Linked DNA regions of Homo sapiens: all the other regions are linked to region 2. The links come from fine-mapping of genetic effects on gene expression. A gene starts in region 2. Each other region holds a variant in brackets. All regions are shown on one strand. Distances are between the middles of the regions.

Region 1 (2,756 bases), 57 kb after region 2:
AGCATGCAGGGGACGGGGGCGGGGGGGGGGGTCTCACTATTTTGCCCACACTGTTCTCTCCTGGACTCAAGGGATCCTCCCACCTCAGCCTTCCGAAGTGCTATGAGCCACCACGCCCAGCCCTCATTCTATTTTATTTTTTTTTGAGAAGAGTCTCGTCCCGTTGCCCAGGCTGGAGTGCAGTAGCACAATCTTGGCTCACTGCAACATCCGCCTCCCAGGTTGAAGCGATTCTCCTGCCTCAGCCTCCCAAGTAGCTGGGACTACAGGTGCATGCCACCACACCCAGCTAATTTTTGTATTTTTGGTAGAAACAGGGTTTCACCATGTTGGCCAGGCTGATCTCGAACTCCTGACCTCAGGTGATCTGCCTGCCTCGGCCTCCCAAAGTGCTGGGATTATAGGCGTGAGCCACAGCGCCCGGCCCCTTGTTCTATTTTAAACCTTTCAACTACTGCACTTGCTTATCACACTATATGTACATACATTAATTTGATAAAATTTGGAAATTAGGCCAGGTGCTGTGGCTCACTCCTGTAATCCCAGCAGGAGTTCAAGACCAGCCTGGCCAACATGGTGAAACCCCATCTCCACTAAAAAGATACAAAAATTGGCGAGGCACATCATTGCCTGATGCATGATGCAATTTTGTGAGAAAAAAAAAAAATATATATATATATATATATGCATTTTAGAAAAAAGGATTGAGAAGAAAACCCCAAAATGGAAAAGTAGTAGTCTGTATGTGGTAAACATAAGAGTAATTTTAATCTTTGGGGTTTTTCACATTTTTTCACAATAAGCCTGTAAAATCAGATAATAAAAACCATCAACCTTTTAAATAGGATTGGGAAGTCTCTATTTTCCTGTCACACTCTCATTATCCCTACTGTTTAGCACACATAAGCACTGGGCTTGGGTTCCCCAAGTCCCTTCACTTTCCCGTTGTTAACTGTGGTGCCCTCAGCCCTGGATGGAAGGCACTGTGGCTGGGGACGTGGGCACCAGGGGTGGCTTCTGCTGGTGCCTCCTCTCCACAGCAAGCTTCTCCTGGTTCCTCCGGCTCCATAGCACTGGCCATATCGAGGTTGCCAAGCTCGTTGCCAGTGCCGGTTACCTCCAAGAAGCTCCTGGCCTTTACTCCCAGAACGCACACCTGAAAGACTGCTGCTGGCCTCGGTTTCTAAGGAAACTTTCTTCAGGCCTCATCCCCTGGCGGAACATAATTACCCGCTGGAGAGAAACAAAGCGGCACTTATTTTTCTGCTTGAATCACTTCCAAAGGGCTTATTGTCATTTCTGACTGGGACGTTGGGTTTTGTGGAGGAGAAGGTCCCCTTGGCCAAAGGTAGGCTCTGAGATAAGGAAATCAGGAAACCTGCCGGCTGACTGAAGATAAGGGAGCAGCGGCCTGCGGAGCAGGGCTCCCCATAAGAACGCTGTACAGTTCTGGCACCTCAGGAACTTGCCCACATTTGCTGATTGCTAACAGCTGCCTGCTCCCCGTAACAACAGGCAGGAAACCTCTAGAGTTGTAAAAGGGTCTGTTTATTTGCCTTTAATAGCCACGAGAAGGGGAA[G/A]CAGGGGAGTCTGGGCCCCATGCTGCAGCCCTGGAGGCGAAGCGTGGGTGGAGGCCTGGGTCAGGGCCTCCGGCAGAGGAGAGAAGGAGGCAGGATGGGCCTAAGGAGTGCAAAGTTCAGGGTGGAGTTCCCAGCACAACCCCACACCCTCAGTGAACCCCAAGAAGTCTTCCTTAGAACCCAGGATCTCGCCAGGTGCAGTGGCTCATGCTTAATCTCAACACTGGGAGGCTGAGGCAGGAAGATGGCTCGAGGCCAAGAATTTGAGACCAGCCTGGGTAACACAGCAAGACCTTGTCTCTACAAAAAATAAAAACATTTTAAAAATTAGCCGGAGGCCGGGCGCGGAGACTCACTTCTGTAATCCTAGCACTTTGGGAGCCCGAGGCAGGTGGATCACTTGAGCTCAGGAGTTCAAGACCAGCCTGGGCAACATAAGGAAACCCTGCCTCTACTAAAAATACCAAAAATTAGCTGGACGTAGTGGCAAGCACCTGTGAACCCAGCTACTTGGGAGGCTGAGGCACGAGAATCGCTTGAACCCGGGAGGCAGAGGTTGCAGTGAGCTGAGATCGCGCCACTGCACTCCAGCCTGGGCAACAGAGCGAGACTCCATCTAAAAAAGAAAAAAAAAAATTAGCCGGGCATGATGGTACAGGCCTTTAAGTTCCAGCTACTTAGGGGGCTGAGGCAGGAGAACTGCTTGAGCCCAGGAGGTCAAGTCTCCAGTGAGCAGTGTTTGCACCACTGCCTGGGTGACAGAGCGAGACCCTGACTGATAAATAAACCCCGGGACCTCTCCGTTTTGGGTCCTGTTTGTACAATGAACCCACCTGGCCATGCTGTGCTCTGTCCTTTCTTTCACTCTCGGGTGATGAATGGGGCCTGCAGCAGGTGAGCCCCAGGGGCGAGGACACACAGAGGTTTCGTTGCCCATGTGTGACAGACCCACAGGTCGTATCTGCTTCCCAAGGAGTAGGCTCGTTGTTCCTCTTCCGCAGTGCCTTCACGCCACAAAGCACTGTCCTCTCCCATCCTGAGAGGCCCCAGGAAGGGAGGCCCCCCCACCACCCCAACACACAGACGCCATTTGGTCAGCACCTCCCAGTAACACCCAGACTTCTAAGGCAAGGGATGGTGGTGCCTGAGCCTGACTGTTCTCTTCACAGCCCCTGC
Region 2 (2,756 bases):
GGATTAGAAAAGAAACCAATTTTAATAAACTATATTTTGAAGTATAGTTCTATATTAAACAACAAGATCTAGGCCAGGTGCAGTGGCTCATGCCTGTAATCCCAGCAATTTGGGAAGTCGAGGTGGGAGGATTGCTTGAGGCCAGGGGTTCAAGACCAGCCTGGGCAACATGGAGAGATTCCCCATCTCTTTCTTTACACACACACACACACACACACACAAAATATCTGATAGCAACAGGTGCAGTCATTACCACAATTTCGAGTAGTGATGAGCTTAATAATATTTCGAGTTATCACCAACAACTGTAAAGTAACATGAAAACGTCTGTGATGACTATTGCCCACAAAGTCACAGGTACTGCTAATACTCCTGGTATTTGTAGTCAAATTCATAATAAAGGAAATGCTAGGTTTCAGTTGGTATTTTGTCCCGACGGTCTGTGGACGGCAGGTTAGAACGCCCGTCCAAGCCAGGAGGGTGGACCTAGCACTGCAGGGTCCACCTCGGGCCAATCAACTATATTCCCGAGGCGGGGGCCTGCGCTTCCCGGACCCAGCTGCCCTCAGGGGAGAGAGGACACACTTAAGAGTTTGGGGCCGGCGTGGTAGCTCATGCCCCTGATCCCAGCACTTCGGGAGGCTGAGGCGTGAAGATCACTTGTAGCAGGAGTTTGAGACCAGTCTAGCCAACTTGGCGAGACCCTGTCCCTAAAAAAAATTTTTTTTTAATTAGCCAGTTGTGGTGAGCGCCTGTAGTCCCAGCTACTCGGGAGGCTGAGGTGGGAGGATCGCTGGGCTCAGGAGTTCCAGACTGCAGTGAGCCATGATGGCGGCACTGCACTCCAGCGCGGTGAGACTCAGTCTCAAAAATAAAAGGGGGAGGGGTTGGGGGTAAAATTAGTTGTGAAATCAAGTAAGACTTCCTGGGACAGAACAATCAAAGGGGTGGCGCCGGGTCCTCCAAAGAGCTACTAGCTCAGCCCAAGCCCCGCCTCGGCCCCCAGGGCAGCGGCCCGCAGAGCTCCACCCGGCAGGCGCCCGGGAAACTCCGCCCCCCGGCCGGCAGGGGGCGCGCGCGCCGCCGGCCCCGCCCCGTGGACGCGGGTTCCGTGGGCGTTCCCGCGGCCAGGCATCAGCAATCTATCAGGGAACGGCGGTGGCCGGTGCGGCGTGTTCGGTGGCGGCTCTGGCCGCTCAGGCGCCTGCGGCTGGGTGAGCGCACGCGAGGCGGCGAGGCGGCAGCGTGTTTCTAGGTCGTGGCGTCGGGCTTCCGGAGCTTTGGCGGCAGCTAGGGGAGGATGGCGGAGTCTTCGGATAAGCTCTATCGAGTCGAGTACGCCAAGAGCGGGCGCGCCTCTTGCAAGAAATGCAGCGAGAGCATCCCCAAGGACTCGCTCCGGATGGCCATCATGGTGCAGGTGCGGGCCGCTGTGCGGGCGGCGGGGCGGGGACGCGGCGCCCCGGGTTAACTGTGTCCGGGAAGGCTGGGGGAGGGCGGGCCCAGGGAGCGAGCGGGCCCGGGCCCTCGGAGCGGCACTTGGGGCCTATGGGGCCGCGGCCGCCCCTCCTCCCGAGCGGCCCGGCCGACCCTTCCGGAAGGTTTTGCTGATGTTGCAGGAAAAGCCCGGGAAATAAAGTCTGCAGCTGGTGTTGCCTTTCGCTTTGTGAAAACGAGGAGCCTCTTCTCTTCTCCTTTCTGGGTGGCGGTGTTTTATTACTGCCGTTCGCCTCAGGGGTTGGGGGGGAATTGTACATGGTCTCTTTAAGCTAATCTGATTTTGACCTATCTTGTTCTGGAGGGTTTTTGTTCTACATGGATGGTGGCGACTGACATGTGGGTTTTTTTTTTTTTTGTTAAACCTATTTTTGGCAGTCATTTCAACACGTCATTTAAACGCTCACTCTCATTTTTTATTTTAATTAGGCAGAACTATGCAGAAAGGTGTCATTTCTGTACAGTACATTCACTTTGAGCCTAATTTGTGCTTTAAAGTAACATTTTCCCCAAATTTTCCAGATTCACAGACGCGTTCTCTTGGTGCATTTGCAGCTGTCTGGTTTGAGTAAGAGTGGCTCCAGGGGGGTTTCTCATGTGGGCTTTTTGATAGATTGAATCCCCTTCTGAGGTTTCCTGAGCCTTCTGTGAGGTGGTGGGCTTGAAGGCCCCTGTCATTTCCCAGGGGCTCCTGCCTCCAGCTTCCAGTTTGCCGATGTCTACCTTTGTATTAATAATTCTGGTTCTCATCTGCCCTGTTCCTCCTCGCTTCCAACATATTACCCAAGCTTAGTGCTCATGGTCAAGGTAGCTTGATTTTCCTCCCTTCCATGAGCTGTAATGTGTTTTAGGAATGACCAGATATCCCTCAGTGGATTTTCAGTACTTAGTACAAGGGAGGGCGACATTTACCGAGTGGATACCCAAGTGCCAGGTGTACTTCCGTTATCTTATTTCACAATATGCCTGTCATCTTGGTGTCCTCGGGGCATACCTAAGTCAGTACGTGGCACACAGTGCTTATTTGGTAGGCATTTTTTAAGTTCTAAGCACTCTGTTAGGTTTTAAGGACACAGAATCCACCTTTGGGAATTTCCAGTTTGGTTAAACGGGAAATGACTGGTAAACAAACGTTACCGTAAGAGAGGATGGATGCCACCTGATGGAGCTGTGCTCTAGGCATTGTGTGCCTAGGAGTCCGAGATGACCCAGCTAAGGGTGGAAGCTTGATTAGGAGTCGTTAATTCACAGAAGTGGAG
Region 3 (2,756 bases), 44 kb after region 2:
ATCTGCTGCACAGTAATACTAACCAGCAATGGCTGGGCGCTGCTGGGCAGGACCTGGACCTTCCATCCCAGCCTTGTGGAAAACACTTTTTACATTGCAGCAGACCTTAAGTCTTCTAGCCTTAGGGACAGCCGGTCATTTCTCGTGTATCCAGTCCTGTCTTTCAGTCAACCAGAGTAACAAATGGCTTCTTTTGTCCTTCCCTTTGTTTACTACTCCAACCAGATCTTTAAGATAGAGCGTGAAGGCGAATGCCAGCGTTACAAGCCCTTTAAGCAGCTTCATAACCGAAGATTGCTGTGGCACGGGTCCAGGACCACCAACTTTGCTGGGATCCTGTCCCAGGGTCTTCGGATAGCCCCGCCTGAAGCGCCCGTGGTATGTGCCTGGCCTGGCGAGGGGTGGGCAATGCCTGTCTCTGCAGGTGTCTCCATAAAGAACTTTGAGCAAGAGGTCTAGTTGGTTTAGGGGGATTCTGCCAGACATCCTTTCTTTGGGCCTTCACCCTTTTATCCTCCTGACCCTAACCCTGTCAGGGGTTTCAAACACAGTTTCTGGAACAAAGGAGGCAGAGCATCCAGGCCAGGGCCTGCTGCAGATGCTAATCGGGTGTGTTGACAAGCAAAGAACAGACACGTGGCTACAGGCCAAGCTGAGTCCAGGCTTATCTCTACCACTTCCCAGCCGGGCCACCTCTGAGTGTCAGTGTCTTCAGCAGGAAAACGTAGCGATGAATGAGTAAGGCTTTACCTAGACACGAGGGATCGTGATGCCACCTGCTGGATTCTAGATGGGTCCACCTGGACAGGACCTTCTAAGCCTCTTGTTTCACAGTTGTAGAATGAGGAGGAGAGAAGTTTAAATGATTCTCTCTGGGGCTGTGCAGTAGTGTATAACGGGCAAATGGCCTACCCTTTGTGAACCTCGTGTTTCATTTACAAAAGGGAATAAAAATACCAGCCTGCATTCCTTGGGTGTTGACAGGCGCTAGTTTAAGTAACACTGATGAGCT[C/T]ATTCCGTCCTCATGGCAGCTCCATGAGACTGTGTTCCCCATTTGAGAAAAGAGGCAAGTAGAGTCCAGAGAGGTTACGTAGCTTCTTGCAGCTCCTTGGCACCTGGCAGAGCTAGGATCTGACAGCCTGGCTTGTGAGCTAAAACTTTGGTATTTCCTCACCATGGGCATTGTGAGAATTAGAAGTGATGGATTGCAGCACTTAGCTGGGTGGCTTGCTCAAGTTGGCACTCAGTGAACAGCTGCTCCTAATTTCCCATCAGAAGATTCTCAGCTCTCCCTTTTCCGACCTTCCAGACAGGCTACATGTTTGGTAAAGGGATCTATTTCGCTGACATGGTCTCCAAGAGTGCCAACTACTGCCATACGTCTCAGGGAGACCCAATAGGCTTAATCCTGTTGGGAGAAGTTGCCCTTGGAAACATGTGAGTAAACCTGGCTCTGGGACTGATGGCATTTCATGGGGACAGGTGGAATGGGCTATAGGCAGAACTCCCCTTGGCTGGGAGAGTAGAAATTCCCCACTGCAGTTACTGGACGCACCAATTAGGATTCTTTTCTTATAAGTAGCAGAATCCAATTCAAGTTAAGGGAACAAGGGAGATACAAGGATACTTCAGGAAATGCAAGGGCAGGAACGCAGCCAGGCCTCCAGAGCTGGCAGTGTCTTCTCTCCATGGACTGGGAAGCAGAGAGATTGAGTTGCACAAAGGATGATCCCCCAGGCCGCCTCCTCCACTCACCAGTGTTTCAGTTTTCTTAGACCAACCCAAATGGAACTGGAATTTTAATTCCACTTCCAGATTCTCCATAGAGAAAGATCTGATTAGTCCAGCTTGATTTGGACATCGACCCTAGTCCTGTGAACTGTAACCAAAAGCACAAGGTCATGTAAAAGGCCAGGGGTCTGGGGACTGTGGAATGTGGACGGAAACCTAGAGCTGCTGACCACCACTCCAAATAGGGCCTTGCCTTGAAAATGGCCCCATAGCAGTGATCGCTGGGCACAAACTATGTTCAGCCGCAACTGCAGTTTCAGGTTCTGGAACAGTTCCAGAAACTCAGGAGGGAGCCTGAGCAGTTTAGATGGTCTGGGTTTTGTGGACTTTTATCTCATCTCTGTATCTGATCTTATTCTCCTAATCAAACTGTTGGTTTCGAGAGCCCAGTGTGAAGGCCTCTTCTGAGACTGTCCTCTTTTGAATAGGTATGAACTGAAGCACGCTTCACATATCAGCAAGTTACCCAAGGGCAAGCACAGTGTCAAAGGTAAAGTGTTTCCAAAGCTGTTGCTACAGCCCGAGGCACCCTGGACAGCACAGAAGCCGGGGGCTTGCTGTCCTGAGAAGGCTGCCTTGTGGCTGGCTGTCAAACAGCTGGAGATTCATTTTATCTTTTCGAGGGGTGTGTGTGCGTTGTTGTTGTTGTTTGGGGGGTGGTGGTGGTGGTTAATATGCTGCAACTGACCATGATTGGAGGTTCATTTTATTTATTTTTGTAAAAAAAAAAAAAAAATAGGCAAGCTCTATAGCAGGAGGTTCATTTTTAAAAACAGTTCACTCTCTGTGGCTGCAGCTGGTATCACAGATGCCACAGGAGAATCTTGGTGCAGGCACCAGTAACCAGATGCACGGGTTTCGGCTTTAACCTAACTTGTAGCTACAGCAGTGAGGGACCTCTCGTGACATAGTAGTGCCTGGAGCATCTTGGATTGCTAGAATTTGCAGCATATGATTTAGAACCT

Alleles and levels. Positions count from the first base shown, and alleles are read on the strand shown. Sizes are in standard deviations (SD) of each study's normalised expression.
For the expression in non-classical monocytes of the gene that starts at base 1,137 in region 2, allele G in region 1 goes with a higher level than allele A (large effect, 0.89 SD a copy in Schmiedel 2018).
In carriers of allele T in region 3, the expression in left ventricle of the gene that starts at base 1,137 in region 2 tends to be lower than with C alone (small effect, 0.19 SD a copy in GTEx).

What was found. PIP is the estimated chance that this variant, and not a neighbour inherited with it, causes the effect.
Region 1: its variant is the best candidate, but not a certain one, in a credible set for the expression of PARP1 in non-classical monocytes (Schmiedel 2018, PIP 0.81).
Region 3: its variant is the best candidate, but not a certain one, in a credible set for the expression of PARP1 in left ventricle (GTEx, PIP 0.89).

What each region holds. Positions count from the first base shown.
Region 1 is chr1:226,348,992-226,351,747 of GRCh38, reverse strand. No RefSeq gene overlaps it. Among named protein-coding and RNA genes, the nearest start is that of LIN9, 41 kb to the right of the region's middle. RefSeq lists an enhancer at 1,565-2,065. The variant G/A (reference allele first, on the strand shown) is at 1,581.
Region 2 is chr1:226,406,474-226,409,229 of GRCh38, reverse strand. It overlaps PARP1 (poly(ADP-ribose) polymerase 1), which reads left to right and starts at 1,137. Exons shown (of 23, transcript NM_001618.4): 1 at 1,137-1,420. The coding sequence starts at 1,301. RefSeq lists a cis regulatory region at 542, enhancers at 470-614, 793-922, 2,513-2,572 and silencers at 953-1,212, 1,463-1,562.
Region 3 is chr1:226,362,624-226,365,379 of GRCh38, reverse strand. PARP1 (poly(ADP-ribose) polymerase 1) reads left to right here. Exons shown (of 23, transcript NM_001618.4): 19 at 226-378; 20 at 1,310-1,437; 21 at 2,220-2,281. Among named protein-coding and RNA genes, the nearest start is that of PARP1, 44 kb to the left of the region's middle. The variant C/T (reference allele first, on the strand shown) is at 1,013.